2 separate regions of the Homo sapiens genome follow, and region 2 is linked to region 1. The links come from fine-mapping of genetic effects on gene expression. Tissue or cell type: whole blood. Region 1 holds a variant in brackets; the other region holds the start of a gene. Each region is shown on its reference strand, or each on the opposite one.

Region 1 (4,403 bases):
TTATGGCCAAGGAGATTAATCAAATAAATATTAAGAATAATGAGAGCTAGTTTCTTATTGTTGGAGAAGGATGTTAGAAATATAAAGGAACCAAACTAAAACTATGGTTCTGAATTGAAATCGAAGCTATCTGTAGATTTGTCCATATTATCACCTATGTGTAGGTATTTATACAATGATATGCCCTAGCTCTGTCTCCAAGAAATAGTAGAAACAGCAACATTCAATAGCAATGAGTACACCTAGATCCAGCTCTTGGTTTTGCAATACCATTTCCACCAAATGGGAACCATGGATCTTTGGAATAATGGTTGATTTCAAAGCTAGAACAGAGAAAATATGACATGAGCTTGGAATAGTTTGCTGTGATAAAGTAAGAAAGTTGTTAAGGTTTGAAAAGGAACACATTAAAAGGACACAGAAGAAAACTTGAAGAGGGTCCCACTGTTCAAATCTAGAAGAATTTAAACATTAAAATACATCAGTATAGTAATGGATTGTAATCCACTGAATTTAATAGGGAACCAATAGTTCATAGTGATATAGACAATAAATAAGTGAACAAATTATAACTTTAATGAGGCATGGGATATTTGCATAGTCTCTCAAAGCAGCTACCCATAAAACCCTCAATTAAAAAGGAAAAAAACAATTTTACAGTGAAGAAACATGACACTTACCACTTTAAGCAATCAAAGTCAACATCACTAGTAATGAAACAAATCGAAACTGTGTTTCACTTGATAGGACACAGCAAGACAAATCACAGCACAGCAAATCATGAGGAGACACCAGGCAAATCCAAATTGGGAGAAATTCCTAAAACACCTGGCCTGTATTCTTCAAACCTGTCAAGAACATGAAAGTCAAGGAGATACTGAGTAACTTTTTCAGGTTGAAGAAGACTAAAGAGAAATTATAACTAAAAGCAATGCATGTTTCTAAACTTGATCCCTTTGCTATAAAGGATATTTTGGACCAAATGACGATACTTGAATTGGGTTTGTGGATTGAATGGCAGTCATATAACAATTTTAGTTTTGTATTTTGATAGACTTATGGAATATGTTTTTGGGTAATTTATTTGTTTTTAGAAAATGTACTCTAGTTTGGGATAGATTGAGCATTATGTCCACAACCTGCCATCAATGATTTGAAGGTACAAACTTTTTAGTAGTGTTCTTGAAACTTATCTCTAAATTTGAGATTGTTTCCAGAAAACATTACTGTAAAAAGAAAGAATATGATCAATTTGGAAAAGTGCACATGGGTCTATATGTTTGTAATGTAAGATACATGAAGAAATAAATATAAGGTACATATTAGGTTTTGAAAAAATAGTGGGAGGTAAAGCTAGAGCTGTATTACAAAGAACCAAATGATTCTTATGTTTGACATTTTAGGATTTTATGGAAAGGAATGTCATGATCTTTCCATAAAGGATGGCATTTTAGAAAACAGCATTCCTGTAGCTTAACAGAAGATAGAAGGAAGAGGGTGGAGACACTTTAAACAGACAGAGTGACTATTTACAAAGCAAGTTAGAGGCAGACCGGGACTCAGGAAGAGATGCTTCAGATTTTGTGTCCATTGCATACATATTACAATTACAAGCCAGCAAGAACGGTTGGAGGGAATGGGTTAATTCTAAACCAAATTGTAATGGGACAAGGAACAACTGGGAGATAAAGAGTGGCAGATTTGGCAATCATGTATCATAATAGACACCTTGGATTTTTAGTTTTTTAATATACCCAGATCATTCCTAAATCATTCAGAGAAGCACAGCTCTATTGCCAAACATGCAAGGCTGTCCTACTGCCTCAGGCCGGCATGTCACCAGGCAGGCAGAACTGAAGCTGAGAGCCTATGGTTGGGACATTCTGACAAGAGTTGGGGAAAGAATGTTTCAGGTATCTGGTGGTACTTGTGACATTTGTGGGAGGTCTTGGGACCATACCAGCGAGGGCTCAGGATGGCAGATGTTTAATGCCACTCCATAGAGGCAGGTTCTGGAGAGGAGAGATGTGCATCGGAGTCTAGGGAACAGAGCTGAGGTTGGATGTCAACAGCAAACCATTGGGAGGGTCTTAGCAGACAAAGAAGGGAGAGCACATGAGGGCCAGTGACAGTGCAGTCAGAGGTGAGATGATATGCAAGCTGGTCCAATGGACACACCCCCCAACCTGTTATGTGGCTGCCCCTCCTGCTCTCTGTGGCGTCCTGAGCTAATCAGGCAGGAATGGAGACAGGCTGAGCAGAAACAGAGCTTCTCTGTTCCAAGAATGTCCTGGGCCTTTCAGAGGCATTATTGTGCTTAATACTTGCACTAGCCCACCAGGTGGTTATTTAGACTTCATTTATACATAGTAAACCTGAGGCTAGGCGCAGAAGCACAGTACTTAATTCAGTGGGAATCCAATGCTGTCTGACTCCAAAGCCCTAGAACTTGCTTCTGCAGCCCTG[G/T]CACTTGGCTCAGATCTACTTACAAGCAAGAAAGCTTGTAGAGTGATGCCCAGGACAATGGCAGAATATGTTCCTTCCATAAAGCTGTCAGAATTATAAAATTCAAGATGATGGAGAATCTTCGTATTTTTACCAGTAATCAATGGTGTATCCTAGAATTTTAGAATTCCAGGACTGGCTGAACTTAGTTGCCAATTTATCATTTTTATTTTTAACTGGTTTGCAAATTGTAGCACACGTAATTGAGGCAACTTCACAATGAGGACATTGGATATTAAAGCTCATGGAGGATCTATTAACTTTTTTTTATTATACTTTAAGTTTTAGGGTACATGTGCACAAGCTGAATGAAATGAAGTTTTAGTTACTTCCTATCAATGCTGTTCTCTCTCCTTCATGAATCTATTGCTTCACAGAAAATGTCTTAAAAGACAGAAAACAAAACAACAATAACGAAAAAACACAACCCCTGTCATCTGTTTTAAAACAGTTCTTATAATAATGATAGTTTACAAACTTGTGTGACTTTCAGATCATAATAAAGCATAATAAGTACTGACTATGCTTGTAATAGTTTAACAATTTAAAAATCATTTTAGTGACTATTTTATCATCATCTAAAATATAATCTCTCACTATGGCTACAAAAATAGATGGCAGCTGGTTTGCACATTACTATGATTTTGTGATATTGTTATTTGAATTAATTTGATCATCAGAGTTTTGGACACTGAATGGATTTTAGGTGCACTAAATGAATACATTGAAAATATAGTCAGTGTGACTGGTTTTGCTTTAACTTGAGGGACTTTGATTTGCACTTAAAACCACTTGGCTTCTTCACTCTTTTGTTGGACTTGCTTTTCATGGTCAAGGAACACCCTTTGTAACACTGGTTACACAACCGCCCTCCTGTGTGTTAGGCACAGAAAGTACTCACTACTCCTCTGTCCCACAATGTCCTAGGCACTTGATATTGTCAATCTTTAAGCTTCTTGCCACTGTAATATAATTGTGGCTTTGATTGGAATTCCCCTGCTTACTAATGAGATTGAGCATCTTTTTCATATTTTATTTTTCTCTTGCATGAAGTACCCATTGAAGTAATTTGTTCACTTCTCCATCGAATTGTCTTTTTTGTATCTATATATTGGGACTCTTTTATATGTTTTAAAAAATACTTGCTCAGTGATCTGTGTTGTAAATATTTTATTCCGATGTGTATCATCTTTTCACGTCTTCATTGTACCTCAATTTTCAGACCAATTGGTTAATCATTTCTGCGAATGTGTTTTTCGACTCTTTAAGAAAGTTTTCCCTATACATGGTAATAGTCTACTACATTGCCTTTCAAAACTTTTATAGTTTTGCTTTTAACATTTATGTCATAAATTTACCTTGAAACGATTTTAGTGTATTATGTGAGATAGGAATCCTAGTTCATTTTCTTCCCTATGTAAAAGTAATTGTTGCTGTCCATTTTCCCATGTTCTTCAATGCTAGCTGTCATAACTGGGTTTCTATTTTTTTGTTAAGTCTGTTTCTGGGTACTCTATTCTGTAAGTATATTTGTTTATCTCTATACAAATAAAACATATCTCAATGATCATATTTTTATAGTATGTCTTGATATGTGATAATGTCCATCCTTCCAATGTATTCTTCCCTTCAGCAATGCTCATTTTTGACTGTTGGCTCTTACATATAAATTTTAGAGCTAGCTTGATGTAACCAATTACCTGCTGGAAATTTGGATTTTTCTTGAATAGAAGGATGAATTTGAAGATAATTAACATCTTAATATATTAAGTCTTCCTATACAGATATCTAATTTTTTTGTTTAGGTCTTCTAAATTTGTACATCTATTAATATTATGTTTATTCCTAGGTAATTACAATTTTGGTTTCTATTGTAAATTTCATATTACTTAATATTA
Region 2 (4,403 bases), not on the chromosome of region 1:
TTTGTCAGTTTTGAAGAGAGATAATACAGTGACTAGACTTCCCTAACAAACCATCAGGATGCATCCTAACTCTTCTCCAACTACGGCATTTGCAGTTCACCATAACTACTCCTGGTGGTCCCTCAGCAGAAACCAGCTGGCCACAGAGTATGGGAATGGAGGCTAGAACTTGCGAGCTGAGAAGACACAAGTTGGAGTTCCAGCAATACCACAGTCTAAGTCTGTGATCTTGAAGAAGCTATATCAGCTTCTTGGATATCAGTTCCCTCCATCTCTAAAATAATGACATTAAACCTAGATGAACAAATTCTGCAATTCTGTAACTGCTCACTGAAAAGCTGAGACTACTCTAGCCAACTTTCATATTTCAAGGACTTCACCTTTTAAATTCCTGCAGAAATGGAACCAACTCAAGAACTTTAGTCAGCATGGCGGGTCCCTTGTGAAAAATAATATCAGCACTTAGCAATGCAGTGCAATTTGAGAGTCACTGGAAAAATCTTTAGTCCTCAAATTTCTCCTTCCATGAGAAGTTACTTTTTAAGTTAATATTTATTTTGTCTAACTTCCCCCTTTTAAAATGCAGATACCTTGTGAAAGGATAGTATTTTTCTCCAGTCTCGGGCTGAGTGTCTTCTTCCTTATACCTGGGCTCTCAATTATATCACTTACAAACTCCAGAAAGAACTGGCTCCCACACTTTCCCCACCCTTCCTAGAATCTCTTTTTTTTTTCTTTTTTTTTTTTTTTTGAGGTGGAGTTTCACTCTTGTTGCCCAGACTAGAGTGCAATGGCACGATCTCAGCTCACCCCAACCTCTGCCTCCCTGGTTCAAATGATCCTCCTGCCTCAGCCTCCCAAGTAGCTGGGATTACAGACATGTGCCACCATGCCTGGCTAATTTTGTAATTTTAGTAGAGACAGGGGTTCTCCATGTTGGTCAGGCTGGTCTCGAACTCCCGACCTCAGGTGATCCGCCAGCCTCGGCCTCCCAAAGTGCTGGGATTACAGGAGTGAGCCACCGTACCTGGCCAAATCTCTTTATTTTTCTATCAGCCCCTTTATTCTGTGCTCATACTACATTCAAACATATCTCTAAGCTTAATGCCAACCTTCTTTGATGCTTCTGCCTCTTCTGTAGTCTACTTTTTATTCTTTTGGTGTTACCATATTTAGAGATAGAATAGGAATCAGCAAAGAGACAAGTGGTTGAAGAATTAAAATGAGGACCAGAATGGTACTGTATCCTGGCCAACCAAGGAAGAAGAGAATTTCAAGAAGGAAGGGTTATCAGCATCGTCAAATTCAGAAAGTAAAGAAGATGAGGACGACTAAGACTGCTAGCTTCAGAAACCAACTGGAGGCTGGCCAGTGTCCTCCTTATTACCAAATCTAAACATCTTTGCTGTCAGTGGTGGAGGAGATTTGGAGTGGTTAATCAAATCTCAAAATAGAAATGGCCCCAGTTTTCAGAATGTAGACTAAGAAAAGCAAGCTTCCTGTGAACCCTTTGAAAAGTCTGATTGACCCCTTGCCTCAACTCTGATGTGGGAAGGTGGTGAAAGATCAACAAACCAACACATCTGTCTTTTAGATACAGTAACAAGAGCAACACCTTACACCTCTTCTTCTTTAGCTTATTTTATTAGAATGCAATATTATTCCTCCATTTATAATTTTTAAAACTTGAGGTTCAGATAGGGTTTAAAGTACGTCTCAAGTCTTACATCCCCCTAATACAGTGCTCCTGAAAAGATTTCTGCTGAAAACACCTCCAAGCTTTTGTCTCTGTTTTATCCTTCTAATCCTGCACTCCTTAAAGGGCCAAACCACCAGCCTTTCCTCCAAGCTTCCCCAAGGGTTTAGTAGTCCACCGACCTTTGGTAGTTGAGGAAGAGCAGAAGACTCTATGATGATATCTGGGATAGTTTCTCAAAGAAGAAAACTGCCTTGATCTATGTAGTCCTGGTTCCTCCCCAGATCAGAGTTTATCATAATACCCTGAAGTTGACTGGTAATTGCTCCACCAAAGAGTCCCTGAATTTCAGCCATGTGGTTGGCTGGTCAAGGACGGTTGATGGAAATAGATGGGCAGAAACTTTTGACGGGCCCAATGAATGATTAACAGCAGAAATAAAGCAGCACTGTTTACCTAAGCTCCTTCCTCTTTGCTAGTCCTCATTCTTCGTAACATGTCGCAATCGTTTATTTTCTCCTCTGCCAACCATTTCCCCTAAGTGGAAAGGTAATTTGAATTTGAAGCCAGAATTCTTTTTTCTTTTCATAAACACATAAGGGTTATGGCAAGACACAGTCCAGCTAGCCTGGAAACCTTGGATACTGCGAGGTTCAGAGAGCCTCCGCAAAAATGATCCACTTTCCATGACACTAGGTCCAGTATGCTTTCCTGGAGTTTGAAAACTGATATTCTTGCCCAGAGCTCGTCTCTATCCCACCCCAAGGAATTACAAAAGGTGGGGAATTTATCAAACATGCATTGGGTTTCCACTATGTGCTGAGTTATCTAGAACGTATTTGGAGTTCAGCAAATGTTAACTGCTACTACATGTCAGGCACCAGAGGGCCTCCAAAAATTGATCTATCCAGTGCGCTCAGAAGAACGCAATGAAGGACCGGCCATGTTTCCTCTCGCATAGATCTAAAAAGACCACAAGCACTTACATAGTCCAATTAAGCTACTAATCCTCAAGGTTAAGATTTGTGTGCTCAGAAGATTGCTATTAAAAGGCAATTCTTTCTGAGAACTTCACTTTTTCTGTAATAAATACTGAAAGTCCCAGAAGAGTTTCAGAAAAGGAACTAAACTACAACAGGTTGAGTTAATCAAGGAAGTTTCTACAGAAGATGTGAGATTTGGATAAAAGGTAGAAATTATTAGATAAAAGTGGTAAGGATATTAGATGTAAAGAAACCATGCGCTAGGTCACCAAGGTGAGACACTGATTTGACCAGAATGAAGATAGAGGAGGATTCCAGATTGCACAGTCTTGAGACTAAATTGGAAGAAATATCACCTTTAAAGCTGCTATTTCTTTAAAGTACCGTTTTCCAATGTATTGAAGTCCTTTCGTTTACTTTCCACAGTGACTCTTGCAGATTTTTCTCTCCAGGTCACCAAATTGTCACATTCCCTCTCAGCAGATGCTCTTACCTCCTACTTTACTAAAAATCATTCTACCTTAGCTTCATCAATGTCAAATTTTCCCTCCTATTCACTCCTCATTCCGAGGAGAATTGTTTCTTCTTTTCCTGCCTCATTTTCAATGCATCTCTCATCCTGAAATGTCCCTTCAATTTTGCCAATACCTCAAATTCCACCTTTCTTCTTTAGTGTGATGCTGAACTTCTCAAAGGTGTGACTTGTTCTACCTGCCTGTTCTTTCTCATTCATCACTCCACCTGTTGCTTTCCCATCTGGCTTCTACCACTCTTCTACTGACATGTCTCTCTGAGGCACGCCCTTAGGTCCAAGTCCAAAATATCTTTAATTCATTTCTTAGGATCTGTCTGCAGCCTTTGTCACTGCTGATCATTTCCTTTCTGAAACTCTCTTCTCCTTTGGCTTCCATGACACTAAACTTACCTGATTCCCTTAACTTAACTAATTTCTCTTTCTTAGTTACTGTTACCTTCTCTTCCTCCTTCTCATTCCTAAATATAGATATATCTCAGGCTCTTCTTTTTTTAAAAAAATTATCTTCGCAATTTTAATGATCTTGCCTTCTGTCACAGCTTTAACTATTACCAGTAAGAAGACTAGCCAGCACTACATTATTATTTCTGATTACTCTCCGAAACTCAAGACTTACTTTCTTAGGTTTTGTTTTTTTTTTCCCCCCACTGGACATCTTGCAAGCACTTCACCCTCAGCACATCCAAAGAGGAATTTCTCATTTCCGGCCAACAAGCTTCACTTTCTGACCCCAGCTTTTTCTGACCTCTGGTTCTCGGGAATAAAATTTCAGATTCACTTTTGAACTCTTCCTCTCCCTCACCCTTCAATGTTTGATTAGTTGACAGGTTGTTTTGATACAAGTTTTCAATATCTCTCGTGTCTGCTGCTGCTTTTTCATTTCTGCTGCCACCAAACCAGTTCAGGTTGATAATGCCTCCCATATGGACTATTGTAGGAGTCCTTTCGTTGGTTTCTCTTAGTTCTTTTCCCTCATCAACCAATACTACAACCAACATTGTGAGAGAAATCTTTCTTTATGTTCTGTCCTTATTACTTCATTGTTTGCAAGGCTTCCATGTCTTCATGGTCTGACTGCCAAAAAACAAATGTATATTCTCTGCCTACCAAAAACAAGTGTATATTCTCTAGCACGTCATTCAAAAGCCTCCATAAACTGGCTTTGACTTATCTTTCCAGCCACCTTCTC

The links. PIP is the estimated chance that this variant, and not a neighbour inherited with it, causes the effect. A credible set is the group of variants that fine-mapping cannot tell apart.
Region 2: C4BPA starts here. The variant in region 1 is the best candidate, but not a certain one, in a credible set for the expression of C4BPA in whole blood (TOPMed, PIP 0.53).

Annotation. Positions count from the first base shown.
Region 1 is chr7:50,249,765-50,254,167 of GRCh38, reverse strand. No RefSeq gene overlaps it. Among named protein-coding and RNA genes, the nearest start is that of IKZF1, 53 kb to the left of the region's middle. The variant G/T (reference allele first, on the strand shown) is at 2,467.
Region 2 is chr1:207,101,906-207,106,308 of GRCh38, reverse strand. C4BPA (complement component 4 binding protein alpha) reads right to left here and starts at 2,076. Exons shown (of 12, transcript NM_000715.4): 1 at 1,879-2,076.